Linked DNA regions of Homo sapiens. The protein of the gene in region 1 interacts with the protein of each later gene in a biochemical or structural test. Each region holds a gene or a part of one and is shown on either strand. Other genes may lie near its edges. The genes, in order: STRIP1, MINK1, MAP4K4 and TNIK.

Evidence for each region.
Region 2: the proteins of STRIP1 (region 1) and MINK1 form a complex in vitro, tested with the Homo sapiens proteins (one study listed by BioGRID).
Region 3: the proteins of STRIP1 (region 1) and MAP4K4 form a complex in vitro, tested with the Homo sapiens proteins (one study listed by BioGRID).
Region 4: the proteins of STRIP1 (region 1) and TNIK form a complex in vitro, tested with the Homo sapiens proteins (one study listed by BioGRID).

The regions. Positions count from the first base shown.
Region 1 is NC_000001.11:110,042,623-110,050,362, reverse strand, and holds part of STRIP1 (striatin-interacting protein 1), read right to left. Parts: intron 7,276-7,740; coding exon 7,093-7,275; intron 6,725-7,092; coding exon 6,507-6,724; intron 6,045-6,506; coding exon of another isoform or gene 6,026-6,044; exon of another isoform or gene 5,676-6,025; intron 5,524-5,675; coding exon 5,458-5,523; intron 5,349-5,457; coding exon 5,285-5,348; intron 3,684-5,284; coding exon 3,612-3,683; intron 2,822-3,611; coding exon 2,747-2,821; intron 2,592-2,746; coding exon 2,494-2,591; intron 1,252-2,493; coding exon 1,125-1,251; intron 904-1,124; coding exon 803-903; intron 21-802; coding exon 1-20. UniProt on the Homo sapiens protein: Plays a role in the regulation of cell morphology and cytoskeletal organization. Required in the cortical actin filament dynamics and cell shape. Part of the striatin-interacting phosphatase and kinase (STRIPAK) complexes.
Region 2 is NC_000017.11:4,880,005-4,887,744, forward strand, and holds part of MINK1 (misshapen-like kinase 1), read left to right. Parts: intron 1-979; coding exon 980-1,036; intron 1,037-1,109; exon of another isoform or gene 1,110-1,127; coding exon 1,128-1,253; intron 1,254-4,358; coding exon 4,359-4,469; intron 4,470-4,907; coding exon 4,908-4,998; intron 4,999-5,478; coding exon 5,479-5,609; intron 5,610-5,906; coding exon 5,907-5,961; intron 5,962-6,115; coding exon 6,116-6,194; intron 6,195-6,446; coding exon 6,447-6,622; intron 6,623-7,105; coding exon 7,106-7,175; intron 7,176-7,575; coding exon 7,576-7,740. UniProt on the Homo sapiens protein: Serine/threonine kinase which acts as a negative regulator of Ras-related Rap2-mediated signal transduction to control neuronal structure and AMPA receptor trafficking.
Region 3 is NC_000002.12:101,696,367-101,700,506, reverse strand, and holds the start of MAP4K4 (mitogen-activated protein kinase kinase kinase kinase 4), read right to left. Parts: upstream 2,801-4,140; 5' UTR 2,427-2,800; coding exon 2,370-2,426; intron 2,243-2,369; exon of another isoform or gene 2,065-2,242; coding exon of another isoform or gene 2,035-2,064; coding exon 1,969-2,034; intron 1-1,968.
Region 4 is NC_000003.12:171,449,712-171,457,451, forward strand, and holds part of TNIK (TRAF2 and NCK-interacting protein kinase), read right to left. Parts: intron 830-7,740; exon of another isoform or gene 1-829. UniProt on the Homo sapiens protein: Serine/threonine kinase that acts as an essential activator of the Wnt signaling pathway. Recruited to promoters of Wnt target genes and required to activate their expression. May act by phosphorylating TCF4/TCF7L2.

The DNA.
Region 1 (7,740 bases):
GGTAATCCAGGACAGAAATGCTGCAGAGGGGAGAGGAACCAGATGCCCACCATGAGCAAAGGCCCAGGGCCTGGTGGAGCAGCCGTGCCTGAGCCAGCTCCCAGCTTTCCTCCCTCACTTGTTGGAGCAGAAGTAGGAATCTACCTGATGTGTCCCACCCCAGTTTCCCCACCTATAAGATGAGGAAATATCTGTTACAAGAGAACTTGTAAAGCACCCCTGTAGCCAGAGGCCAGCTTGTTGATCTTGTAAGGGGAAGAGACCCTCACAGCTTCCCCCACAGCAATCAATGTGGGGCGGGGGAGGAGATAGCTCAGGGCAACTAATTTATGCCAAACCTTTCTGGAGACAGGGTCTGGCCGGCGCCCTGTGGTATATCACACTGACGAGCAAGTAATGTCAAGCACAGCTGGCACCAGGCCAACAGCAGGGGCTAAGAGTCAGCAGATAGGGCATTACAAGGCACATGGCCGAGCCCCTTAGAGACAGCAAGCAGCCCATGGACTCCTCAAAAAAAAAAAAAAAAAGTACAGAAGGGACAGGGAGGAAAGTACTAGATCCTGGGATGAAAACCCTCCTGCCCAGGCACAGACCAAGTCACCTGGGGCAGGACTAGCTAGACTCAGATTTGACACAGTGGGCTCTCCACAGGCAGAGGCCATGTCTCATTTATCTTTATGTCTTGATGCCTAGCACAGTGCTGGCTCGTAGGTGCTGGAAAAATGGACACAGTGGGAAATACCAGCTGGGAACTCTGCCGTCTGACCATATCCACCCCTTCATGGTCCCTGGCCCTCATCACCTGTTCTTGGCAGTGATGTAGGACATGATGTTTTGATTGAAGAACTTTAGGATCAAAGGAATGCAGTTGGCAAACACCAGGTGCTGGGCCATGTATTCAAACTGAAGCCAACAGGAAAAAAAAAAAAAAAAAAAGGCGCGGCCCTTGGGACCTTGCCCTCTTTCCTCCAGGGATGAAAGGCCTTGGCTGAAGGGCCATGTCTTAGAACATTCATGCAGAGTTCAAGTGGGTCAAAGGCCAAGGCCCCCGTTCTTGTGGGCTGGAGGAGCAGCAGTGCCCGAGGCCCCAGCCCACAGGACAGGAGGGAAAGCCCTGTGGGTACCTGGTAGACATGGTTCAACTTAAAGTGCTTGAGCAGCAGCAGCAGGACAGCAGAAATGGCCTTAACAATGACCTCTTTGTGGCGGTTTACATCCACCCCCAGCTTCATGCTCTGCAACACTGTGGTGCTGGAAACATAATTGCCTGGGTAAGCCACCAGCATGCGCAGTACCTCATTTCTAGGTGCCCACAGAAAAGATGGACTCCGGAGCCTCCCTGGGCAAAGACTCCTACCTCCCCACTCACCCCAAGGACATCTCAGAAGTCAGCCGAGGGCTCCCCCATCCACCTCCCAAGCAATGTAGCCTCGCACAATTTATTTCTTCCCCATGATGCCCTCAAATACATTCTCAGTCTGTTTCTCTGCCTTTCCTCCAAAAATGAACTTCTTCTCCTTTCCAAGATCTCCCCTAAGCTTCTGCTGCCATATTAACCTGAGTTCTCCAAATGTGTTCTGTGGAATACCAGGATATTGGCAAGTTTCATGTCATGGAAAAAAAGGGTTTTGGAGTAAGATAAATTTAGGAAGCACTGAGTTACATTGGTTTCTTAATTCAGGACTTCTCATTGTACATCTTTGTAAGAGGAATTCCTCCTTATAAGAGAAATCCATGAATCAAATATACAGTATTTGACTCTAGAACCTTTTTTCCAAGGACCATCACATGATGGCCTAGTGTTCTGTGATCCTCCCTCTGGTGTTAGCCAACCCCTGCCTCCTCCCTCAGCCGGCCATCACTGCCATACTCCGGGGCCACAGCCACCCAGGAGCTGGGCTCAGGGCTGGTGGCCCAGGCAGGCAGAAGATCAGGTCAAGGTCCAGGTCCTTCTCAAAGTAGAACATGATCTCAATCTGGACTCTCACATGAAAGACAAGTACAGGGCACAGGGCAGAAGAGCTCTGAAGAATCTCACTCTATCGCCCTGAGACATTTGCCAGCATTCTGCGTGCCCAATCACTGGCGAAAAGGGATGTCTCTATACCTGGCACAGGTTCAGCTGTTGCTGGCAAGCTGTCTACAAACTAACCCTCCTCATCCTGGGTGTCTCAATCACAGCTGGAGAGTGGGGCTTTGGGGAAATGTCCAGGGTGGCCCCATTCATTTTACAGAGGAGGAAATGACTTTCCCCAATTCACTCAGGAGTTTGCTCAGTGGTAGAGTCTACACTAGAATCCAGGCCAACAGGACCAAGCCATCTCCCCAACCAGTGAAACTCTTTAATCTCGTAGTTTCCTTTTTTTGGGTCAAAAATACCTACATTTAACCTGTAGAGCTGGGCCAACAACAACCAACCTGACAAGAGGAAAATGTTTGCCCTTCTCCATCTATCTTCTGCCCCACCTGCTTCATTCACAGAATGATACTCACGGCATCTCCTCAGGCAAGACGTCCGCTAGGATGTTGATTGAGTCTGTTTTGGCTTTTGAGGTGGGTGCTGCAGCCAACAGGATCTTCAGGAGGGCAATCTGGGAAGAGTAGACCATTCAGACACAGGTCTGAGAGCCCAGGGTCAAAATTAAGCTCTGAGCAGTCCTCCTGTTGGTCTGCAGGTGGCAGGAGGACGGCAGGGCCTGCTCTAAGGCCAGTGTAGTGGGAGTGTCCCACTGCAGGCACCACTCACCATATACTGAGGCAGGCTGGGGAGCAAGCCTTGGTAGAGGGTTTCTGCAGGGACTTGCTCAACTTCTTCTTCTCCCTTTTAACATAATGAGTACAAGCATAAAACCCCAGCCCAGAATACAATCTCCTGAGCCAGCTTCCTAGCTGGCTGGAGGAAAACCTGTAAACAGTGATGTACATAATGATGTTAATGATGATAACAGCAAACCCTGAACACAAACAATGTGCCAAGCATTTTACTTGTAATAACTCAGTTCATCCTTATTATTATAACCCTATAAAGGTATTATTATTCCTATTTCACAGACAAGGAAATAAAGCATAGAGAGACCCAGTAACTTGCCTAAGTTGCCATCCATAAAGTGGTGGACCCAGGCATCAGAGGCAGGTTCCTGACTCAGTCTGTATTCTTAACCCTGCACTAGACGTGTCTCAGCCTGTGCACTGGGAGGTGGACTGGGAGCTCTTTGAGGGCAGGGCCTGGGGCAACCTTGTGGTCTAATCCCAGCACAATGCCTGGGAAGAGCTGGGGATCCCGGGGGCTGAAGAGGACCTCTAACTTTTTTTTTTGAGATGGTCTCGCTCTGTCGCCCAGGCTGGAGTGCAGTGGCGCTATCTCGGCTCACTACAAGCTCCGCCTCCCGGGTTCACGTCATTCTTCTGCCTCAGCCTCCTGAATAGCTGGGACTACAGGCGCCCGCCACCACGGCTGGCTAATTTTTTTTTTTTTAGTAGAGACGGGGTTTCACCATGTTAGCCAGGATGGTCTCAATCTCCTGACCTCATGATCTGCCCTCCTCGGCCTCCCAAAGTGCTGGGATTACAGGCGTGAGCCACCGCGCCCGGACTGAGGACCTCCAACTTACCCCTGAGAGAGGGGAGCGGAGGTATTCCTCCTCCATCTGTGCCTGGACCTCTGCAATCGACGTGTACTTGTGCTGGTGGGAGAGATGGGAAAAGAAGGGCTGGGGAAAACATTCTCTGGCCAAACTCCCTGCACTCTAGCAAAATCCCCACACATTTGTCTTCAAACACAGTCTTCTGAAAGAGGATTAAGTCACCACAAAAATCCCTAGCTAAAATCCCAAACCCCAGATATTTTTTATTTTTATTTTTTTGAGATGAAGTCTTCCTCTGTTGCCCAGACTGGAGTGCAGTGGCATGATCTTGGCTCACTGCCACCTCCGCCTCCCAGGTTCAAGCAATTTTCCTGCTCCAGCCTCCCAAGTAGCTGGGACTACAGGTGTGCACCACCACACCTGGCTAATTTTTGTATTTTTAGTAGAGATGGGATTTTGCCATGTTGGTGAGGCTGGTCTTGAACTCCTGACCTTAGGTGATCCACCCACCTTGGCCTCTCAAAGTGCTGGGATTATAGGCGTGAGCCACCATGCCTGGCCCCAAAATATTTTTCTAAAAGGGCCCCTTCCTCTTGCAACTACAGTAAGAAGCCCATGGTAGATAAGAAAAAAGTAAATTAAAGGAGGGAAATGGCCTTTCAGATAGCTACAGCAACAGGAGAAAAACTGAAAGCAAAATCAAGTACTCAAAAAGCCTAGCTGCAGAGAGACCACTTAGTACTACAAATTCCAAAAATATATTTCAAAAACATAAAAACAGTTTCACTCCAGATAGCTGTTAGGGGAGATGCCTCTTCCCCACTCTTAATGTTCTCTCCCGTGTGGAGGGACAGGGGTTTGCGAAACACCCCTCATCTCTCTCTGCCCCGTCCACACACTCACTCCTCCCTTCTCTGATCGGAGAGTATGGGAGGGGACACAGGGCGGACTTGTCCTCACCCTTCTCTTTTCTCTTTAGAACCTGTCTGCCTGCTGAGAGTCTGCTCTCTTCTCCTCCCCGCCACCAAGCTTGGCAGAGCCTCCCCACACTGCCTGGGACTGGTAGGTAACTCTGCCTAATTCTGGAACAACGTATTAGGACACTACTGCTGTGTTCTTAAGCCTCATTCTCCATGGCTCTATGAGCTATAAAGTTGGCATTACAATCTCCATCTGCCTACTCCTCTATTTCAACCGCCTGAGAACGTGGGCAAGGAAAAGGAGGGCTATTTATTGAGCTCTTTAGAATTTCAACAACTGTCAAGTAATATAATCCTTTTTTTTTTTTTTTTTTTTTTTAAAGAATCCGGGTCTCACTCTGTGGCCCAGGCTAGAGTGCAGGACCATGATCATAGCTCACTGTAGCCTTGATCTCCTGTGCTCAAACAATCCTCCTGCATCAACCTCTTGAGTAGCTGGGACTACAGGTGCATGCCTTGGTGCCCGGTGGTCAGGTAATATAATCTTTAAAGACTTCCCAGTCAGTCCCAAACAAAAGCTCAGCTAAAACAAGTAAAACTTATAATAAAACAAGCAAAACTTACGAAAGACTGTTTGCAAGGTTATTGCAAAGTCCACCCCGGCCTCTACCCCAGGTTCTTGCAGGCAGACAACAGTCTTAAAAGGCTTCTCCCTACAGGCTGGTTTCACTCTACTCACTTAGGACCAAACAAGCCAAAAGCTCACCCAAAGCCACTCACCTGTTTCAGAGTCTTGATGCTTTCGTGGATTGGCCTGGGCAGCCCCACCACTGTGTTCGTGTCACTGGAGAATAAAGAAGGCCCTGTGTTGAGCCTCGACATCAAATCACCTGGGATCCCAAACACCAAAGGCCGGGAGAGCTAACAGCAAAATGAACTCGGCTTTTACTCACCTGCCTAGAGTGTAACCTATAAATTTGCTGCGGCTGGACTCAAGGAACATCTCAATGTCTTTCTCTCTGCCACATCACCAAAAAAGAGAGAAAGAAAAAAGGTTTTTAGCAAATGCTATTTCAAAGTGTTACAGTTAACAAAAACACAGCATCCAGAAACTGTGAAGCCAGGAGAAGTCTCCTATAATTGTTTTTCTCTTTGAAAAAAGGGAAAAAACTGAAATTTTCAGAGAATTTTAATGTTTCTTATAATTTTGCTGGATCAGTAACCTGGAAATACATGTTAACTAGTTTATTCATAAAATTAAAGGGATATATCAAACTTAAAAACATGCTTTATTCAGATAGTATGAACAAGTTTGTCAACAGACTTTCTTAAATATTAAAACTTTTAAACAATTAAAGCTATAGGCTACTGATTTTTCATATAGCTCACTTTTCCTATCCCAAACAATCAGCATACCTTGCATTTTCTGATGATCTGTTTTGCATTCCCTTCACAGATCACTGAAAACTGAGGCTTTACCTGGATCAAGAAAGCGACTTCTATATCCTCTCACATGTTCATCTATTTCTTAAGCTGCTGCCTATCAAACAGACACCATTTATATATCTCCAGGTACCGTCCCATCCATCGATTTACCCACATATATCTCAAACATTTTCATTATGGCTCTAAAGAAACTCTTCCTTAATCTATCATTTTTGTTAAAAACCATACACAACCCCAGGATGGGTGGAGACATGTTTGCTTAAATGCTTTTGTTTTTATTTGTTTCCTATCCCCCTTCACTAGCACATCTAACCAAGAGCTAACTCCAATTACTGCCTCAGTAGCCACATGAGGGCCATGTTGTGTGAGACCAGCAAGGCCGGCCTCCCTGAGACCCTCAGGACAGCACAGGGTGCTTTAAGAGAGCCTCATCCCAGAGCCACGGTCAGCCTGCCCTGCAGAGGACCACACATGGTGACACAGGCCAGGTGGCAGGCCTGAGGGTGTGAGGGCTCTGCCTCAGGAACTATGAGTGCTCTGGAGGTCTGAGACTCACCTGACCTTGGGAGCCCACGGGAGCCCTTTGGGGCAAGTCAGCCTGTCAGTCTGTGGGTGCTGTAGCGGGGGAGGCATCACTTCATCCCGTTCCAGGGGAAACGTCTCCCCCTCCAGACTGTTGTCATCATCATTCTCCTCTTCCTCTTCTCGAGAGTCATCAGCCTTGTAGGGATCCCGCTCGTTGAAGGCATCTAGGTTGTCCTGCTTTATCAGAGCCTGAAACCAGGGAAGGGAGATGAGACAAGAGCCAACTGAGGACGCAGACCAGGGAAGTGCAGCCAGAGGAGACACAGCACATACAGGTGTCCAGTAGAGGCAAGAACAGTGGAAAAACCACAGTGGGAGTCAAGACGGGGGCCAAACCATCAACTACTTCTTGCTCCAGTCCCTCAAAAGCACCACGTGCTGAGCACTCACCATACACTGGACCAGAGCTGGGGACAAAGTATCCTCGCTGTGGAGGCATGATTCTGACTGGCTGATCAGAGATCATTTCCAGCAGCCCTGCTCCTCCAAGGACTGTGCTGCTGCAAGCATGCACCTTGAGGGCCCTCAGGAGTCACAGGGACCTCTGTCGTCCTCACCTTGTGCTCTCGGCGGCCCCGTTTCTGCTGCTGCTCAATCAAGTCTGAAGCAGATGCTGGTGGAGAGGCTGCTCTCATGTTGCGAATCACTTTGATGCTGTCCTCAGGAAGCGGGGGGAGGCCCAGGATGCTGCGCTTCTCAGCCTTCATGCTCTGCAGCTCCTCAAAGCCGCCTAGCGTGCACTGCATCACAGACAGGGAAGCAGAGCCAGGGTCAATGTGTCCACAGGCTGGCCCCTGACCATTGTGTCAGGCTCAGAAACATTCATGACATCATGACCCATGTCTTTATAGAGACCCAGGCAACTCCTGAACAATGGACTGAAGCCACTCCCAAGGAGAATTCCGTGACATCCGCAAGGGAAAGGAGAAAAAGGAACAAGGAAAGAGTGGAGATGCAGGCTGACTGACCCTAGTGCAGATACACTAACTCTGCACCTATGACATACTCTTCAATTTAAAAAGAAGCAAAGAGCCTAACCCTGCAAGTTCCTAGAAAAGTTGGTGAGACTCATGTTTCACAAGTTGTACATGCAAGTCTTTCAAAGTCAAATTAGAAATACTGTTGGTTGCTCAACTTTAGAAGAAGAAAAAAAGCTTCATCTAAACATCTCCCAAGAAGCAGAAACGCCAGCAACATCCAGCTTT
Region 2 (7,740 bases), on another chromosome or scaffold:
GCCTCCATCCTCCGTTAGGGTGGAGAAGTATCTTTCACGCCCTGCTCTAACTTTCAGACTGTAGAAAGTCCAAGCCAGAGAGGCTGGAACAGAACATAAATGTTTCTCCCTCATCTGTCTTGAGTTTTTATGGGAGGAGACCCTTCGCCTTTATTGAGCCTGTAACTTGGAAGTCCACTGTAGGTGGTTTTTCTGTTGGCCATGATGGCTCAGGAGCGCTCTCTGTCCACTCCCATGAGCAGCACATTCACTGAGGTGTGTAGCCACAATGAGGGGTACTTGCTTTTTTTCTTTTCTTTTTTTTTTTTTTTGAGACGGAGTCTTGCTCTGTCCCCCAGGTGGGAGTGCAGTGGCACAGTCTCGGCTTGCCTCCCAGGTTCAGGCAATTCTCGTGCCTCAGCCTCCTGAGTAGCTGGGATTATAGGCGCCCACCATGACACCCAGCTAATTTTTTGTATTTTTAGTGGAGATGGGGTTTCTCCATGTTGGCCAGGCTGGTCTCGAACTCCTGGTCTCAAGTGATCCGCCTGCCTCGGCCTCCCAAAGTGTTGGGATTACAGGCATGAGCCACAGCGCCCGGCTGAGGGGCACTTTGTAAGATAGAAAACAGTCGGGCCGGGCGCGGTGGCTCATGCCTGTCATCCCAGCACTTTGGGAGGCCGAGGCAGGCGGATCACGAGGTCAGGAGATCGAGACCATCCTGGCTAACACGGTGAAACCCCATCTCTACTAAAAATACAAAAAAATTAGCCGGGCGAGGTGGTGGATGCCTGTAGTCCCAGCTATCCGGGAGGCTGAGGCAGGAGAATGGCGTGAACCCGGGAGGTGGAGCAGGCAGTGAGCCGAGATCGCGCCACTGCACTCTAGTCTGGGCGACAGAGCGAGACCCTGTCTCAAAAAAAAAAGCTGTGTCTCCTAGAGTCAAGCCCTCTCTACGCTCCACCCTCTGAGCATAGACTCAGATCCCTCTGTCCCGCAGGGTCGGCATGTCAAGACGGGGCAGCTGGCTGCCATCAAGGTCATGGATGTCACGGAGGTAGGGAGTGGAGCTGGGCAGTGGGAGGGTCGGACCAGCGAGAAGGGAGTGTTGGGGGAGTCTCAGGGCTCAGCTCCTCCCATCTGCTTAGGACGAGGAGGAAGAGATCAAACAGGAGATCAACATGCTGAAAAAGTACTCTCACCACCGCAACATCGCCACCTACTACGGAGCCTTCATCAAGAAGAGCCCCCCGGGAAACGATGACCAGCTCTGGGTGAGAAACGCCCCCCTGCCCGCCTTCCCTCCCCGCAATCCCTGTCTCCGGGCTGTTCACTAGGACTCAGTATCAGTGCCCAGCATCTCTCCTTGCCAGCTACCCTCCCTCCGGTCTACCCAGCCTCCCCTGTCCCTGGACCCAGAGGGGCCTCCTGCCTCATGGATGGCCCCGCACTCCAGCCCCCATGAACTGCAGCATCTCATCCTTTGAGTGTTTTGTGGGGAGGGGTCCTGGCGTTTGCCCCAACCCTTCCCCTAACCAGTGTCTCACACTGTGCGATCGGCTCTTAATAAATAAATATAATCCTGGCAAAGGGGAGAGAGACCGTGGGGAGGCCGTCCATCCATTTTCCTGCCTTTGAGCACAGCTCCTGGGAAAGCAACAGAACCAAAATATTTGTGGGAGATAACAGGGCCCAGACCCCTCCCAGAACCCCAGATGCTACAGAGCACCCAGCCCTTCTGGGTCATCATTCAAAACAGAGCCTGCTGCAGAGCTTGGGGCCTCCCCCAAATTCCTCCTGCCTGGCCCAGAACATTCCTAAGAGTCATTCCCCTCCCTAGCCTGGGCACTGGTGCTGACATGTTCCCCCAGCCTCACCCTTTGTGGTACTGAGCCCAGTCCCTGAGGATGGAGCAGCAGGGAGTGTGGCAATGGCTGTCGGGAGTTTTGGCGCTGACGCCAGGTCTCCCCTCCCAACAGCCATTCAGAGAAGCACTTACTAAGCACTTCTGTATACTCTGTATAGATGAGCATGAGCCATGGTCCTGGCCTCCAAGGCCCTTTGGCTTTTTGGGAACACACACACTCATGCACACAAAGAAAGGGAGAAAGGTGACAGGGAGGTCTACCTGCCAGGTGTGTGTGGTGGAGATCGCGGCAGGCTAGAGGCATTAGTGGCCGGGCGCCCCCTTCTGGACCTGTTGGGCACAGGTCCTCCCCTCCTCTCACTGTGCTCTGCTCTCCAAGGAATAGGCACATGCAAATTACTTTTATTGCATATGCAAATATATGTGTCCACCCAACCTTTTCCTGCATTGGATGTGGCTTTTAGTGAAAACTTGGACAAGCATGCTGATTTCCAGGAAGACTGGTTGGAGCCATCTTCTCTGCCTGCGGGTCTCAGCTGCTCTCCCTGGGAGGTGCAGACCCAGAGCCCTCCTCATCTCCTGGCCTTGTTACTCTCTGTGCTGGAGGAGTTTCTCTCAGGGTCTTCCCAGGTTCCCTGTTGCAGCTGTCGAGGTAGACCCTATGCAATCTTTATGTCTCTAGCAGACCTAGAGAATCACTATTTCTTAGCCCCCTTTCTGCTTCTAAGTCAGGGACTGGCAAACTTCTTCTGTGAAGGGCCAGATGGTAAATATTTCAGGCTTTGCGGGTCATATTTGCTGTCCCAGCTACACGGTTCTGTTGTTGTACCACGAAAGCAGCAATAGTCAGTACGTAAACGAATGAGTGTGGCTATAACCCCAGCACCCTCACTGCGGTCACTCACGTTTCAATGTTTTACACTTTCACATGTCATTTAGGATTCCTTTTTTTGTTTTTTCCCGCAACCATTTAAAAATGTAAAACCCAGGCCAGACGCAATGGCTCAAGCCTGTAATCCCAGCACTTCGGGAGGCTGGGGCAGGAGGATCACCTGAGGTCAGGAGTTCAAGACCAGCCTGGCCAACACGGTGACACCTCGTCTCTACTGAAAATACAAAAATTAGCCGGGCGTGGTGGCATGCGCCTGTAATCCCAGCTACTTGGGAGGCTGAGGCAGGAGAATCGCTTGAACCTGGGAGGCGGAGGTTGCAGTGAGCTGAGATCGCGCCACTGCACTCCACTCTGGGCGACAGAGTAAGACCCTGTCTCAAAAAAAAAAAAAAAGTGAAAACCATTCTTGACTTGCTGACCATATAGAAGCAGGCCTTGGGCCAGCCCTGATCCAAAGCAGAAGTTCCTTTTTTTTTTTTTGAGACAGAGTCTTGCTCTGTCACTCAGGCTGGAGTGCAGCGGCGCGATCTCGGCTCACTGCAACCTCTGCCTCCCAGGTTCAAGCGATTCTCCTGTGTCAGCATCCTGAGTAGCTGGGATTACAGGTGCCCACCACCACGCCCGGCTAATTTTTTGTATTTTTAGTAGAGATGGGGTTTCACCATGTTAGCCAGGATGGTCTCGAATTCCTGACCTCATGATCCGCCCGCCTTGGCCTCCCAAAGTGCTAGGATTACAGGCATGAGCCACTGAGCCCGGCCCAAAGCAGTAGTATTTTGTTTTGGGTTTTTTGTTTGTTTGTTTTTTGAGACAGAGTCTCACTCTGTCACCCAGGCTGGAGTTCAGTGGCGCAATCTCAGCTCACTGCAAGCTCCGCCTTCCGGGTTCACGCCGTTCTCCTGCCTCAGCCTCCCAAGTAGCTGGGACTACAGGAGCCCGCCACCACGCCCGGCTACTTTTTTTTTTTTTTTTTTTTTAGTAGAGACAGGGTTTCACCGTGTTATCCAGGATGGTCTTGAACTCCTGACCTTGTGATCCACCCACCTCGGCCTCCCAAAATGCTGGGATTACAGGAGTGAGCCTCCGCGCCCAGCCATAAAGCAGTAGTTCTTAACCGCTGTAGGGTTTGGAATCCCAATGAGAATCTGATGAAAGTACTAGACCCTTCCTCAGGGAAAATGCATATACCTGCATCATTTTGTTTACAGTTTCAGGGATTCCTTGGACTCCTACTCTAAACCCAGCCCCACCCTGCCAGTTCTTTTCCATCTGTATTCCTTCTCCTCTTTTTTTTTTTTTTTTTTGAGACGGAGTCTTGCTCACCATGTTGGCCAGGCTGGTCTTGAACTCCTGACCTCAGGTGATCCGCCTGCCTCAGCCTCCCAAAGTGCTGGGATTACAGGCATGAGCCACCGCACCCAGCCTTTTTCCCTCTCTGTCTTGACTTGAGGAAATCCTGTGGCCTTTGTGAGGCTTCTGTGGCCCTTGCTCTCTAGCTCATACCAGTTCTAACCCCAAGGTCTCTTATCCTCCTCCAGGAGTCTAGCAGGGGATTGGGGCAGGGGTGGGAGGGCTTGTCTGACTGATACTTTTCCTTTCGGTACCTTCCTGGGATCCTAGCTGGTGATGGAGTTCTGTGGTGCTGGTTCAGTGACTGACCTGGTAAAGAACACAAAAGGCAACGCCCTGAAGGAGGACTGTATCGCCTATATCTGCAGGGAGATCCTCAGGGTGAGCTCAAGGCCCCTCCCCTTGTCTTCTCCTCCGCTACCCTGGCTGGAGTTTCTCCATGAGCAAAGATCCTCCCTGCGCTGGGAGGAGACATCACTGCCCTCTTTAGGGAGCAGCAGGCCTGATGCGGGTGGGATGTGGAAGCAGGGTCCACACCTTGGGAAGTCTCAGGCTGTTGGAGGAGACAAGCTCCTGTTTCCAAGCTCTGCCGCTTCTCCACCTGTAACCCTGCAACTGCTGGGAATTCACCTGGAGCCACCTCTCTGAGGAAGCTCTCCAGGACAGCTCAGCTTGCTTGGGCTCCTGGTGGAGAAGGTCTGCTCCTTCAGCCCAGCCCTGTCCAGACTGACTGCTCCTTGTCCCCTCAACTCACTCCCCACTTACTCTTTCCTACCCCATCCAACACCATGGCTAATTTTCCCTGCTCTCCTGTCCCAGGGTCTGGCCCATCTCCATGCCCACAAGGTGATCCATCGAGACATCAAGGGGCAGAATGTGCTGCTGACAGAGAATGCTGAGGTCAAGCTAGGTGCGCCGGCTCCTTCTGAGGCTGACGAGGACCTTTCACCTCCAGAACAGAGAATGAGGGGCCCCTTTTTCTCTCTGGTGGCTCAGGCCCAACTCCCTTCCTACTGGGGAGGCTCACTCCCTCCCCTTTCCCCTCTCCCCCTGGAATGCCCTGCCTCCTGCTGAAAATCCCTCAGGAAGCTCTTCACCTGTCACCTGTTACGGGCCAGGTGCTCTGCAGGTTGCTCTGGGGAGATGGGATCTGATGGCCCTCCTGCCTGGGATGCTGTCCGTGATCCTTTTACCTGGGTTTTTCTCTAAGATGCTGGAAGATGGAATCGGGTTCTTCAGGATGGTGGTGGGGTAAAGGAGGGTGCTGGGGTGTCTGGGTCGGGCCAGGACCACAGCTGGCTCAGGCAAGTCCTGTGTGTGCACGCAGGGATGTGAGGCAAGGGAGCAGAGGTGACTCCCCACACTGACCCCTCCCTCTGTGTCTTCACAGTGGATTTTGGGGTGAGTGCTCAGCTGGACCGCACCGTGGGCAGACGGAACACTTTCATTGGGACTCCCTACTGGATGGCTCCAGAGGTCATCGCCTGTGATGAGAACCCTGATGCCACCTATGATTACAGGGTATGGAGTGGAAAGTTGGGAGCATGGGGGCTGCCAAGGGCGGGAAGCAATATGGGGACCACGGGGCCTGAGCAGGCTGGGGAACAGAGGAAGGTCAGATGATGTTAGCAGTGAGGGGCTGGGGAACATCTTACGGCAAGGCAAGTGTGGGTGGGAAGATGGGATGGGTTGGAAGGCACTGCTGCAGGAATGGGTGTGGCCCAGGAAGGCTCCTGAGAGGCCAGGATGGTGGGTGAAGAGAGGTTGCAGGGCAGAGTTGTCAGGAATATTCACTTGTTCCTTCTTTCCCGTCTATAGAGTGATATTTGGTCTCTAGGAATCACAGCCATCGAGATGGCAGAGGGAGCCCCCCGTAAGTTCTGAGTCTGCCGGGAGTGGGAGGGGAGGGAAAGGAAGGGCCCAGAGAGTGGCTGTAGGGAGGAGGTGGGTCCTGGGACCCTGCCGAGGAAGGGTCCTGTAGCTCCCAGTGCAGTGAAAGGGACTGAGGGTGTCTCCTCTGTGTCCAGCTCTGTGTGACATGCACCCCATGCGAGCCCTCTTCCTCATTCCTCGGAACCCTCCGCCCAGGCTCAAGTCCAAGAAGTGGTAGGTCTCTGAGAGTGTGGGCTCTGGGAAGGAAGGTCCCTGGACAAGGCCATCCCCACCTTCATGCCCTCTGTGCTCAGGCTTGGATCTCACCAGAGAAGAGATTCTGGGGGGCAGAGGGCGGTGACTGGTGTTGGGATATGAAGACAGGAGGGACGTCAAGGTGGCTTGTGGATGAATGATCCACCCTCTTCCTCCTGCACCCATCCCTTCTGAGGGGACCCTCCCAGTGTGAGCCACCACTGTTTCCAGGTCTAAGAAGTTCATTGACTTCATTGACACATGTCTCATCAAGACTTACCTGAGCCGCCCACCCACGGAGCAGCTACTGAAGTTTCCCTTCATCCGGGACCAGCCCACGGAGCGGCAGGTCCGCATCCAGCTTAAGGACCACATTGACCGATCCCGGAAGAAGCGGGGTGAGAAAGGTCAGTGGGCAGGCTGGAGGGGGCAGGTACTAGGGGACACTCCAGCCTGGCTCCTCTCTGCCAGCCCTGCTCGCTCCTGGCACCCCTTCCTGCTCCCCTCCTTGGCCCCAGCTCTCCCTGTCCAAGGAGATCGTTCTCAAACTTGCAACCCCCAAGGGGTTTTCCCTCCTTTCCCTCCCAGTCTGAATCAGCCTTCCAAAGGAGGACCGGCCTTTCGCATCCTTACAAAAACTCCATGCTAAGCACATGTGTGTGCGAGCACAAGCACAGGCTCTGCCACACCTCAGCTGCCCTGGGACCCAGTCCCGGTCCTGTCCAGGCCCACACCTGAGACCCGCTGTCCTCCCATTGCCCCCAGGAAGTGGGTGGGGCCCCTCATGCTTGCCCAGCCAGAGAGACCTGGTTATCCCCACCCAAGGTTTCCCTAGCCCACGGCGGGTCTGGGGCGCTGGGTGAGATAACTGCAGTGGCCTCCCCCTGCAGAGGAGACAGAATATGAGTACAGCGGCAGCGAGGAGGAAGATGACAGCCATGGAGAGGAAGGAGAGCCAAGGTAGGCCTGGCAGGTGGAGTGGGGGTTGGGGCGGTCATCGCTGAGTGGGGGGACTACAGTGGTGCTTGGCTTTGGGGACTCTCAGCCTGGGGGTGGTGGGCACAGAGAGGTAGAGACTCCTGGAAACCAAATTTCTGAGTGCTAAGAAGTGGAACCAATGACTGAGCAAGAGCTGGGGAGAGAGCAATTTGTGGTGAATGTGGGGCGCAGCAGTAATAGGAAAGGAGGACAGGACTGAAGACTGGGCAGAAGGGGACGGTAAGTCTCCTGGCCACCTGGGAGTGGCCAGAGGCAGAGGCTTTGATCCAGTTAAAGCACCCACTCAGGCGGGCCCACGGGGTTGAGAGTGGGAACCAACAGGGTTCTGACCCCAGTGCTTCTTTGTGCCACCCCTGCCCAGCTCCATCATGAACGTGCCTGGAGAGTCGACTCTACGCCGGGAGTTTCTCCGGCTCCAGCAGGAAAATAAGAGCAACTCAGAGGCTTTAAAACAGCAGCAGCAGCTGCAGCAGCAGCAGCAGCGAGACCCCGAGGCACACATCAAACACCTGCTGCACCAGCGGCA
Region 3 (4,140 bases), on another chromosome or scaffold:
CTCAGGCACTATTTTGTTCTGGACTGTAGGCAACTTTTGCACAGATTTAATTCCCTAGGTTTGCATAATTAGAGAAATTCTCAACTGTACCGACTTTGTAGTCAGAGAGCTGTGTCATGCCAGTATCCCAAATACCTACCAAACGTAGCTAGCGCTCAGCAAACCTAGTTCAAAAGCTCGGGAAGGTTGCGGGGAATGGAACCAAAATGGCAATGAGGGGAAATAACAATGAACCTGACTAAACTCTTACCATAAACAGCTCCCACCTCTTAAAACCAATAAAGACAAACTGGGGTTTCATTCTTTCCTTTCTCTTAAGGTTTAAAGACTATATCGCCTTCTAGCTTACTTCTCTGCCCTTAACATCCATGCTGACCAAGTAAGACACAAACAATCCAACTACTGTGTAGCCAGGTCAAAAACAAGCTCTGGCTAATTCACTTGGAAGACTACAATCACCATTTAATTTGGCGAGAAAAAACTGGGTTAGAAAAAAAATGACTGGTGCTTAAACAAACAACAGACCGGGGAGAATGTCTTTTAGCCAGTTACCAACCACTCAGTGAGTTGCAACACAATCTTTTCCAAAATTTTCCAAAGCCTTCCAAATTCAGTTGAGCCGGGCAAGCTGAGTTAACGGGGCTCTCTTTCAAATTCAAAAATCTGGCCCCGGCCCGAACAGTTAACCAACAAAACACAAGCTAATACACTTGAGATCACCTAAGAATACTGACCCAAGTTCGGACCACAGTCCAGTACAGTACACTACCCAGGCTAGAAGTCTAGGCTAAGGAGAGGCGTTCAAGTGATAGATAAACTCTACTCACAACGCAGAAAAGAGACAATAAGATCCACACTTAATCTAGCCTAAGAAAAGGTCTACAGTCGGCTTCCAACCCCCCCAACTCCACCCATTTTTAATGAGACAATGACAATTCTTCATGGTGAACCACAGAGCCCTGCTTCCCTAACCTTGTACCGACTCTAACAGAACACTCCCCCAGTGCAGATTAAACTTTTAGAAAACGTTCAGTATTGAGAAACAAATTAAGACAGGAAAAATTTAACATTCCGTTCTGAATTTTCAAGGCCTGCGCCTCCATTCCCTACACATCTTTCATAATCTCTAGACTGTACAATGTATAAAATGAACACTGTTAGTCACATCAGGTGTCAGCTACTCAGCGCAGACTCAGTCTCCAGATTTGCTAGTTTCATTTATCGCTGGGGTGGAGGGTGGGTGTTAAAATTTTGAAAAAAGAGAAAGACCTGGGTGGGTGTAAACCAGGGCATCCTCTATATTCTCTTCGCTCTCTGTCATTTCTGTTTCAATTACACAGCTGTCAAACAGGTTATTCCTGGAATTCAGATTTTATAATCCCCACACTGTAATTCTTCCTGCTGCTGTTGCCCAAACACACACTCCTCCCTGCTTCCCCAAAATACGTATCCATCAATAGAAAGGATGACAACCACAGTTATAAAGTATTCCCAGGTAACGCCAAACTCCCCACCTTGAGCAACTGGCAAGCACTGAGTGGAGGCTGAAACATGATGACAATTTTCACGATGGCCAAAGCAGTGGTTTAGGATCGTCAGAGGCAAGGCCCGCCTCCACTGTATTTCAATTTACACACAAACTCAGAAGGCCGGATTTGGGGAAAAAAAGAAAAAATTCAGGTTGTCTTATTTTTAAAAAATGCTTTTCCATTTTATCGAAGTAAAGTGCATGCCTAAGAGTGTAGCTTATTTCCTTATCTCAAAGCCAGGAAATGAGGTCTTTTAAGGCCAGTCTGAATATAAACTCGGTGTGCAAAAACAGAGGGACTGCAAGGCGAAAGAAACCCCTCTCCCAACTTTGGCCAAGCGGCGTGGCCTCCAGTCAGCAGCATGTTTATCACCCTCTCCTCGTCCCCCAATAAGAAGTTTCCACATGCCACGGGAAACAAAGAAGGCGCCCACACCGACCTTATAGACTTGTCCATAGGTGCCATTTCCAACCACTTCCACCAGCTCAAAAATCCCAGCAGGATCCTGGAGAGGAAGGAGGGGAGGGGTTATCATTTAAAAGAAGCCAAAAAAATGAATAAATCAAGCAAGGCAGTTGGAGAGAAAAGGCGGTGACAAAAGAGGTGGGCTTCGCCCCGCGCGGTCCCCCAGCGCCCGGGGGTCGCGCGGCGGGCTCGGGGCGTGGGGGCGGTAGAGGGTAGCGCCCGCCCCGCACCAGCCCGCACAGGAAGACAAAGGGGCCGCCGCGCCCCGCGGCTCTGCCCACGGCGGCGCCCGAGCGCCCGGCCGACCTGGGCGCGGCCCCGGCTGCCGGCTGCCGGCTGCCCGCTCCCCGCGCGCCCGCTCGCGGGCCCACTCACCCGCAGGGAGGAGAGGTCGATGTCCACCAGACTTTTTGCAGGGGAGTCGTTCGCCATTTTCCCTTTTTGCCACCAAAAAACAAATAACAATAAATGTCTCTGTCGCTCTGTGTATCTCAGCCGCAGACCAGGCCGCCGACCGCGCTCCTCGCGCGGCAGCCGAGCCGGCCCGGTACTCTCCTCGCGGGGCCGCGGGCGGCGGCGGCGGGCTCGGCTGCGCTCTCGGGCCGCTCGGGGCTCTCTGCCGGCCGGGCCGCGCGGAGGGCGGACGGAGCGTGCACGGGCGGCGGCGCTCACACCATGGCGCGGGGCCGGCCGTCAGGCCCCCGGGCGTCGCCCGCCGCCTCAGGCCCCGGCGCCCGCGCCCCGCGCCGCGCGCCTCGAGGACGGGCCCGGAGCGTGGGGCCGCGGCGGCGCCGAGTTGAGCGAGTGAGCGCGAGGCAGCGAGACAAAGATAACCCGGGAGGCGGAGGCGGAGGCGGGGAGCGAGGTGGGGAGGGAGGGGGCGGCGGCGGCGCTGGAGGAGGAGAAACGGGACACCAAAAATATATTCTGAGGAGAGAGAAAACAGCTCCCCCTTTCCTCCTCAGGCAGGAAAAACCGGCGGAAACGCACTCACACCCCGAGCCCTGCCGGGTAGGGCGCGGGCCGAGGCGCCCGCGCGGCGTGAATATTCATCAGGGGTGGGGCTCGAACAATGGCCGCGCCGGCGGGCAGCGCGGGCAGCGGTCCCGACACGACGCCCGGCGCCCAGGGTGCGGCCTCCGCGCTCGACCCCGCACGGCGCTCCCGAAAACTGCAGGAGCGGGGAGGAAGCGGGCTGGGATTTCCCCGGGGAGGAGCTGGGGTGGGGAAACGCCCCTACCTCGCGCTAACAACAAATGACACGAAACTGAGCTGGACCGACACTAAGAGGCCATGGACCCTCGCGTCTCCCAGGGCAAGGGTGTGTCCCGCCGGCCGCGTCCCGGCTCTAGAGGGACCCGAACCCGGTGTTGCCGAGCGGAGGAGGGGCCTCCCTCGATCCTCGCCCCCTCCTCGCCCCATTCGCCCCATCCCCCACTCTCCCACACCCTAGAGAGGAGACCCTTAAGTCCCTCGTTTCCGGCTTCCCTGCACGGTTTTCTTTTCCTTTCTCTGCTTTTGCAGGCTAAATGTGTGGTACGGTTGTGGTTGTAGTTGTGGGATTCGCTGAGCATCGCTGGGCTGCCCGGCCATATCCAAAACAGCTCCTGTAATTGTCTGGCGCTGCGCTCCTGGCTGCGCTCGGTAGGTGAGCACTGTGTTTGGGGCCCTTAGTACCAACCCGCATTTTGTAACCTGGAGATCACTAAGGATCAACCAACAGGTTTCTTCCGGCAACCTCGGAAGCCAGTCGGTAGTTAGGCACTTTAATGCCAGTGAATCAACAGTCATTTATATCGCATTCCTCCACCGTCCAAAAACTTTCAGTGGTTCCCTGTTACCTGACAGGTGTTCTCAAAACGTGAGTGCTTCAGGCAAAGTGCCAATTGCCTGGCCCTGCCTCCCGAGTTCTCGTTTCAGGAGGTCTGCAATGGGCCTGAGAATGTGCATGTGTAAGTTCTCAGTGTAGCTAACGTCGCTGTTACAGGGATCACTCGTTGACAACAGTGGCCTCCGGCTATTCATGATTGGATTTTCATAAACATCACCATCATCATCTACCAATTCTTATGCACATACTGTGTCTCCCCCACACAAACGCGTTGTGCCGAGTGCTTTACACACAGCACTCTATTTACAGCCTTGA
Region 4 (7,740 bases), on another chromosome or scaffold:
TGACCATGCAGAAACCATTGCAATGACCATTGCTTTTACAATGAGAACCAGAAAAGCCTTTTAAAAATTAAACAAAATTTTTGGGAGGCCAAGGAGGGTGGATCACCTGAGGTCACAAGTTCGAGACCAGCCTGGCCAACATGGTGAAACCCCGTCTCTACTATAAGTATAAAAATTAGCCAGGTGTAGTGGTGGGCACCTGTAATCCCAGCTACTTGGGAGGCTGAGGCAAGAGAATTGCTTGAACCCAGGAGACGGAGGTTGCAGTCAGCCAACACGGTGCCACTGCACTCCAGCCTGGGTGATGAAGTGAGACTCCGTCTCAAACATAAAAAAAAAATTAAACAAATTTTTAACAACTCAGCAGGCTTAGTCTGCTTTCTTTCACAGTCTGCATTTTTTGGGCCCTGGAGCCCCAGGAGTCTTCGTAGCTTCCCACTCAGGTTAAGATACAGCACATATTTCCAGCTTCTACAGGTGGCCTCTTTGCACATAGAATCGTAACCTTTATTTTCAACATCTGAAGCATTGCTACTTATCTATATTGATTAACTTAGCTGAGTTCTCCTCTACCATCTAATTAGATTTGGTTTCTTCACAGTGGAGCACAGGCTATCTTCAGTGTGTTCCGTACATACAAGCAACTTTATAACCATCTTTGTATCCATACTTTGTTAGACTGGTTTTTGTGTTGTGGGAATGACTGATTCACTAAGATGTCCAGGATGTTGGCAATCCAGTTGAGGGACGTGGTATAACGGGACCCAGCACTGCATTCGAATTTCATCCTTGGACAAGACAAGTAACTTCTCTGACCCCAAATTTCTACCTACAAAAGAGGTAAATTGGATCACCAATCACCAAGCCCTAGGCAGACAGATAGATAAGTAGATATATAGACAAAGATATGCAAACACAATCCCCCTTTACTTTTCATTTTAGCCTTAACATGGTTTTATGGCTTTATCCTATTTATGCCTTTTATCAGAAGGTGCCACAACTTACTTTTTGGAGGTATGAGGTGTAATAAATAAATAAGATCCCTTTTAAATGAATGAATTAATTGCATTCACACAATTGATATTTATTCAATCAACATTTATCATGTGCCAGACACAGTTCAAAGCACCAGGAATGTGGTGCTGAACATGCAGGCAAGATCCCTATTCTCACAAAACTTATTAGGCTCCAGTTGGGACAGCCAGATTTTTAAAAAATTCAGATAGTCACGACTGCCTTAAAGATAATAAAGCACTGAATTGGACAGTTTCAGGGTGGAAGGGAGTGTTACTTTACAGATATATTGCAAAGAAAGCCTCTCTGTTTAGTAGGGAGCCTCTAAGAGGGCCCTCAGTGACTTCTGCCTTCTGGTGTTAGTTAATATTCTTGTGTAGTCCCCTTCGAAATGAATAGGGCTGACTTGGGTAGCCAACAGGGTATTGCAGAAATGATGGTGTGTGATTTCCAAGGCTAGGTCATAAAAGACATAGTGGCTTCTGCTCTGCTTTCTTGATTCCTCTATCTGGTAAAAGTGGGCACGATGTTATGAGGATGCTCAAGCAACCAATGGAGCCACCTACGTGGGGAGGAACTGAGGCCTCCTGCCAACATCCAGCACCACATAAGTAAATCATCTTGGAAAGAGATCCTCCAGCTCCAGTCAAGCCTTCAGAAGATAGCTCACCTTGCCAAAATCTTCCTGCAACCTCAGGAGATACCTCATGCTAAAACCACCCAGGTAAGCCACTTCTGAATTCCTGGCCCACAGAAACTGTGAGATATAATAAATGGTTATTGTTGTTTAGGCCACTAAGCTTGAGGGTAGTCTGCTATGCAGATACATAAGTAATAATACAGGCAGCATCTCACCTTAGACCTAAATAATAAGATGGAGCCCTCCATGTGAAATTTCTGACACGGAGAACTACAAGAATGAGCTTGGCATATTCACAAAACAGAAAAAAATCAGTGTGGCTAGAGTGTAGTAAAAGACAAGTGCAGGCTCTCTTCTCCATCCAACCATGGGTGTAGAAACCATGCCAATGTTGTCTTCAGCTCAGCCCCAGCAACTAGTAGCACCCAATAATCAGGTACTGAATGAATATATACACAAACAAATAAATGAATGAATGCTGGATACCATGTGCATTTCTTCCCCTACAGTTAATCACATTTCACAGAATCACAGAATACTGGGCCTGAATTTACCCTGCACCCAAACTTGCACCTTCTAATACACTAATCAAACAAATGTTTGTAACATATGCAATGTATTGTTAAAGTCTACAAATTTCCTACTTGATGCATACTGCCAAGGTTCTAATTTCACTAACTAGAGAGACAGCACTTTAAAATCTAGGGTTACTTCAGAGTCTAAATCCGGGTATCCAGCAGCAACACTGTAAGGGAGTACCCAGCGGAAGTCACAGTCAGCCCTTCGTCCTATCACTCGGTCTTCAAAAACTAGAACAACACTTTAAATTATAAATCAGAATCTGACAGCTGGAAAAAAATAGCTCATTTAAAAATTAGAAAGGGATGTTACGTTCAGTGGCAATTCCCAGCTCATTGAGGTGCACAGTTTGCAATCTCTTGGTATCTCCAACAGATAGAATAAGAATCCATGGCTATTTAAATGCCCTCAGTCCTGCCTCTAGTTCCCTTACATATTCCAGGAATATGCATCCCAGCAATACAAATTGCTGGAAGTCACCTCCAGCAATTTCTAGTCCAAACCACTCATCTTACATGTGACAAAACTGAAGCTTAGAGGGCAAGGTGTCAGAGCCAGCTTTATGACGCTGGGCTCTAACTCCCAGCTGTGTGCCTCATTAAACCTCACCATCTCCCAAACTCTCTCTACCCGCTCACTGCCAGCTCTGTCAAGATAAAAACTCAACGTTGTCTTCCAGTGGGCCACCCCAGAAGCACACCCTTTCCCGCCCATCTATTACTGTTTAATCAAAACAGCAGTCATAAGTATTATCCGATTGTTGAAATAATTGAAACACACTCCAAACACACACACACACACACACACACACACACACACACACACACATACGCCTTGCAATTCTAACCCATGGTATTTTAAATCTCTCAAAACTTAGAATAAGACAATGGAGAGAACACTTTCCTTGGCAGAAAAATTCTAGAAATAGGAATACCTACCCAGGACCAGGCATAGTATTTCTCGTAATTGGTGCCCCCGGAATTGTACTCTATGTAATTAGCATCCACTGGAATTGTACTCTACATAAAAAGTGTCCCCAGGAGTCATGCAACCTAGACTATAATGTAATTCATGATCCCTGAAATTGTGCCATGGTCAGCAACAGGCCCCACCTTTCTGAGGTTTCTATACTCTCTCTACATAGCACCACCTCCAGCCCTTCTAAAAGGGTTGCACAGTATATATTTTGTTAATTCAAAATTTATTTGTTGAACGAACGCCTGCTGTGTAAAGAAAACTGGTGAGGATCCCTAAGAAAATCAAACGTTGCCTCTAAAAAGGAATTGTCTAGTAGTGAATATAATCCAAGACAGAAAGTTCTGAGTGTTATGAAAGAGGTGTGAGGTCAGTTCTGAGACAGTCTATGAGTGGGAGGGACAACTTGAGAGAAATCAGAGACTTCTGTGGAAAAGGTGGTCTGCGAATGTTCAGCGTTGGGGCAGTAGGTACAGAAAGGAGACTAAGACAGAGCGCCCCCTACAGAGCATCCATGGGGGAATGAAATTGTTCCCTGCCGCAATGGGGGAGTGGTCGTCAAAACTGCAGAGCTCGGTGGGAGGCCCCTCTGAATTGCCGCTGGTCTTAACATGCTAAAGAGTTTAGTTTTCAGTCTGTAGACTAAGGAGACAGAGAAGGCCTTGAATAAAAACAACCAGATTGAAACTGTGCGTTTGGAAGACTCACGTGGCTACAGTGTACGAGAAACCAGTCAGAAGAAGGCTGGTGGTAGAGACACAGGAGGAGGGGAGGTCCTGTTGCGGGTGTTGCCCAGGGGACAGTAACTACAGCACTTGCAGGGAACAGTGGAGACAAGGGGACCCATATGATAAACATTAAGGGAAGAATTTTAAGTTGGGGTGATATAAAATGTGTTTTGAGAAACTGAGGGCACCCCCATGAGACAACCAGGACATGTAAAAAAGAGTGGATAGAATCATGTTTCTCTAAAGGGAAATAAGCTTCCAACCAGACTGGAAGGAATCACAAGCGGAATTCATCCAACATTTTCTACTTAAGTCCTCCCTCTCTCTCCACTAGAGACCTTATATTTATATGTGCAGAATAACATTTCATTCAAAAAATATCATTAAGATTTTCTTAGAATTCTCAGCACACTGCTAACAAACCAGTTTAGGCCCTGTTCTCAGAGAGCTACTTCCCCCACAGAAATGTAAGAATCAATTTGACATTAAAGCATCTTTCAGACTCAAGTTACTCCAGATTCTATCAGGAAGGGAATCAGAGACTGGTTGTGCTCAGCTGGGCATGGCGGCCATGATTCAATCACAGGAGCGCCTGGCTGGGTGGACTTTAGAACCACTATCACTGAGAGAAGGAATGGCGTCGAAACAAGAAGGGCACGGAAGATTAATTCCAGGGCAGAGACACAGAAAGAAGAAAGGCCGAACGGGCAAGACTCGAAATTATAAGATATCAAAGAGTTTTACAGATAAGGGGGAAAAAAGGAATATTTCCTGAAAGAAATGTACTGGGTACTCTCTCATCAACAAAATATTACATGACCTCCTAAGTAGATAATTATGCAAACAGCAAACCATGACTTACACTGGCTTTTGTACTAAAGATTACTCCAGTTAATAATGAATAATGAAAATGATTATGCATATTTCTCTGATGTTCTGATAAATACCAGCACACCCTACTTTTTATGAGGCAATGCCATTGTAAAGAAAACACCTGTTTAGTATCTCTGAAAAATAAAAAGAATATCTAATGAAAAAATTGCCATGCTGTTATCATTTTGAGATACTGTTATCAACTCATGCAACTTTACTAAAATCTCATTTTAGACCAAATTTAATTAAGTGCTCTGGAGTAATGAACTAATAATGTTTCGAGATTTCTTTGAGCCCCATGAGACCTCTCACCAGAAAGTTTTAAATACTGGGCCATTAGTGTATCATTTTATGTGTCCACTCTATCTCCCAAGGGAAAAGATAAAACTTTAGGAAGGCACAGTCATGATCAATGTGTTTGTATTTGAATAATCGGTAATACATAAAGAGAGAAAACTTTTTTTAAAAAAGAAGGTTTTAATGAACAATGCTGATAGTTGATACTAGTTTAGAAATATGTTAATCTCCAAAAAACTTCAGGGCTGCACTTACCTCATATGTAATGAATGCTTAATACTGGGGGCGCAAAGCTCAATTCAGGCCATCAAAGAAACATACAAGGTCACATTGGTACACAAAAGGAAAAAGGCAGCTAAGGTCTGTGGAGGTACTGTTAAAAAGAGTCGGAACCTTCTGATATCTTTTTCTGAAGATTATTTTCCTTCTTTTCTTAGTCTTCTTTTTTTTTTCTTAAACAAGATGTCACTCTGTCACTGAGGCTGGAGTGCCGTGACACAATCACAGCCTCGACTTCTCAGGCTCAAACTATCTTCCCACCTCAGTCTCCCAATTAGCTGGGACCACAGGCACACACCACCACACTGACTTTTTTTTTTTTTTTTTAGAGATGGAGTCTCCCTACATTGCCCATGATGATCTGAAACTCCTGGTTTCAAGCAGTCCTCCCACTTCGGCCTCCCGAAGTGCTGGGATTACAGGTGTGAGCCACTGTGCCCAGGAAAGATAATTTTCTATTAGATAAAATCATTGCAATCAAATGTTGATGGTATCAATTTTCCCACTAAATTCTACTTAACCATGGGATAGCATATTTGTACAGTGCTGTATGGTTTTTAAAGCATTGCCTTAAATACTTTATTGATTTTGAAACCAGTATGTGAGAAAGGCAAACAGTTGTGATGATTCTTATTAACTATGGTTAAATGTCCTACCCAAAGTCACAGAGTGAATAAGAGGTGGACATAGAACTGGGGAGACAGGGTTCATTCCACTCCATTCATTCAAGCATTCATTCACGTACTCATTCATCCAACTAATGGAGACTATGGCTCCAAAGATGAACAAGATCTAGCCTCTGCCCTCAAGAAGTCCACGGTTTAGTAAAGAAGCAGAAAGGAAATCACACACCAAGTAAAACATGAGCATGAAAAGTGTAGCAAAGGGATGTATGCAAGGCTTTCAGATGAGGTCAATTCTTAAATCTGGGTTTCAATGGAGAAAGGAATGGCTAGGGAATGAGGGCTAAGGGGAAAGACAAGTGTAGATCATCTAATTTTGTTCAAATACAAAAGTGTATGTGAGTCCTGGCAGAAGCTGAGAGTATGAGGTCAGCAGCAGCCAACTCCTGGCCTTGAATGCCTTACCCTGTGGGCCAAGTTAAGGACAGCCAAGGTGCTTAGGTCCAGAAATATGCTAATCTCCAAAAAGCTTTCTGGGCTGAGCTCGCCTCATATGTAATAAAGCACACTGGTGGCAACTTTCATCTCTTTTAATACTGAGATGTCTTGAAGCAAGAATGACTCAAGCCCCAGGTTTGAATGAGTAAATTGTTTGCTGTAGCCTATGTATGTATACACACATTTTCATACACCCACGTGGATACGGTTTATATCCATAATACTACACATAATATATGTATCCACATAGATAATACAAAACATACACACAACTCTATAAACCTCACATGCAGAGCCATCTGAATAACATGTATGTTTATACTGACCCCTTGAGACATGCTCTGATGGACACAGGTTACTCAGAGAGGTTACCTGTGCAGGACAACCATGTGTCCTAGGTGATTTCAGACAGTCGTTTGCCTGCAGAGTAGGCATTGAACCAGGGCTGGACAAGATGAATTCCAAAGGTGGCCTAGAGCTCCATGGTTTCATGTATCACAAGCTTACTTGCATGAAGTAGTTTCGCCATTCTCAATAAATAAAATTCCCTGACCCTGGTGAAATTATTCCTTTCTGCTATTCTTTTGTACTCAGGCAGAAAATGTATTATTGATTTCTGATTCCACCACAGAAAGTGTGACTTAGAGAAAAGAGCACTGAATGAGGAGTCAGGAAATCTAGATTATTTCCTCAAACCACGCTCCTCGCTGTCCCCTCCCCTTGTTACTGTGTGACCTTGAACAACTTACTTCACGCCTCTGGGCTTCAGTTTCCCAAGTGTTCAATGAAAGGAGTGGCTGAGTGTTCTACAATTCTCTTTCCAGCTCTGAATCTATAAAACAATTCCAGCCCATCCCTCAAGATTTAGTTTATCTCTGAGCTCTAAAAATCAGGGCTAAAACTGGATTCAAAGTACCTATTTTCTAACCAAAGAAGATCCTGCTTCACTCACTTTTAAACCATGCAAATCTTGCATAATTTAAATGATCAGTGCTGTCATTGGTTGCTCTGGTTTAAATTATGCATTGTTGCTATTTGGGGAAAATTTAGACTGGGTCCGGTCTGGAATCACTGGCTGAGAACAATAAGCCCCCAAAGTGAGAAGGATAAAGGCCTCTCTAGACAGGATCTGCTTTTAATGCTTTGAGCCCAGGGTTTACAAAAAGAGCATTGACTGTGTACATTAAAGAGCCACCGAAACAGCGAGGGACTGGTAAGTCTGCAGCAAATTCTC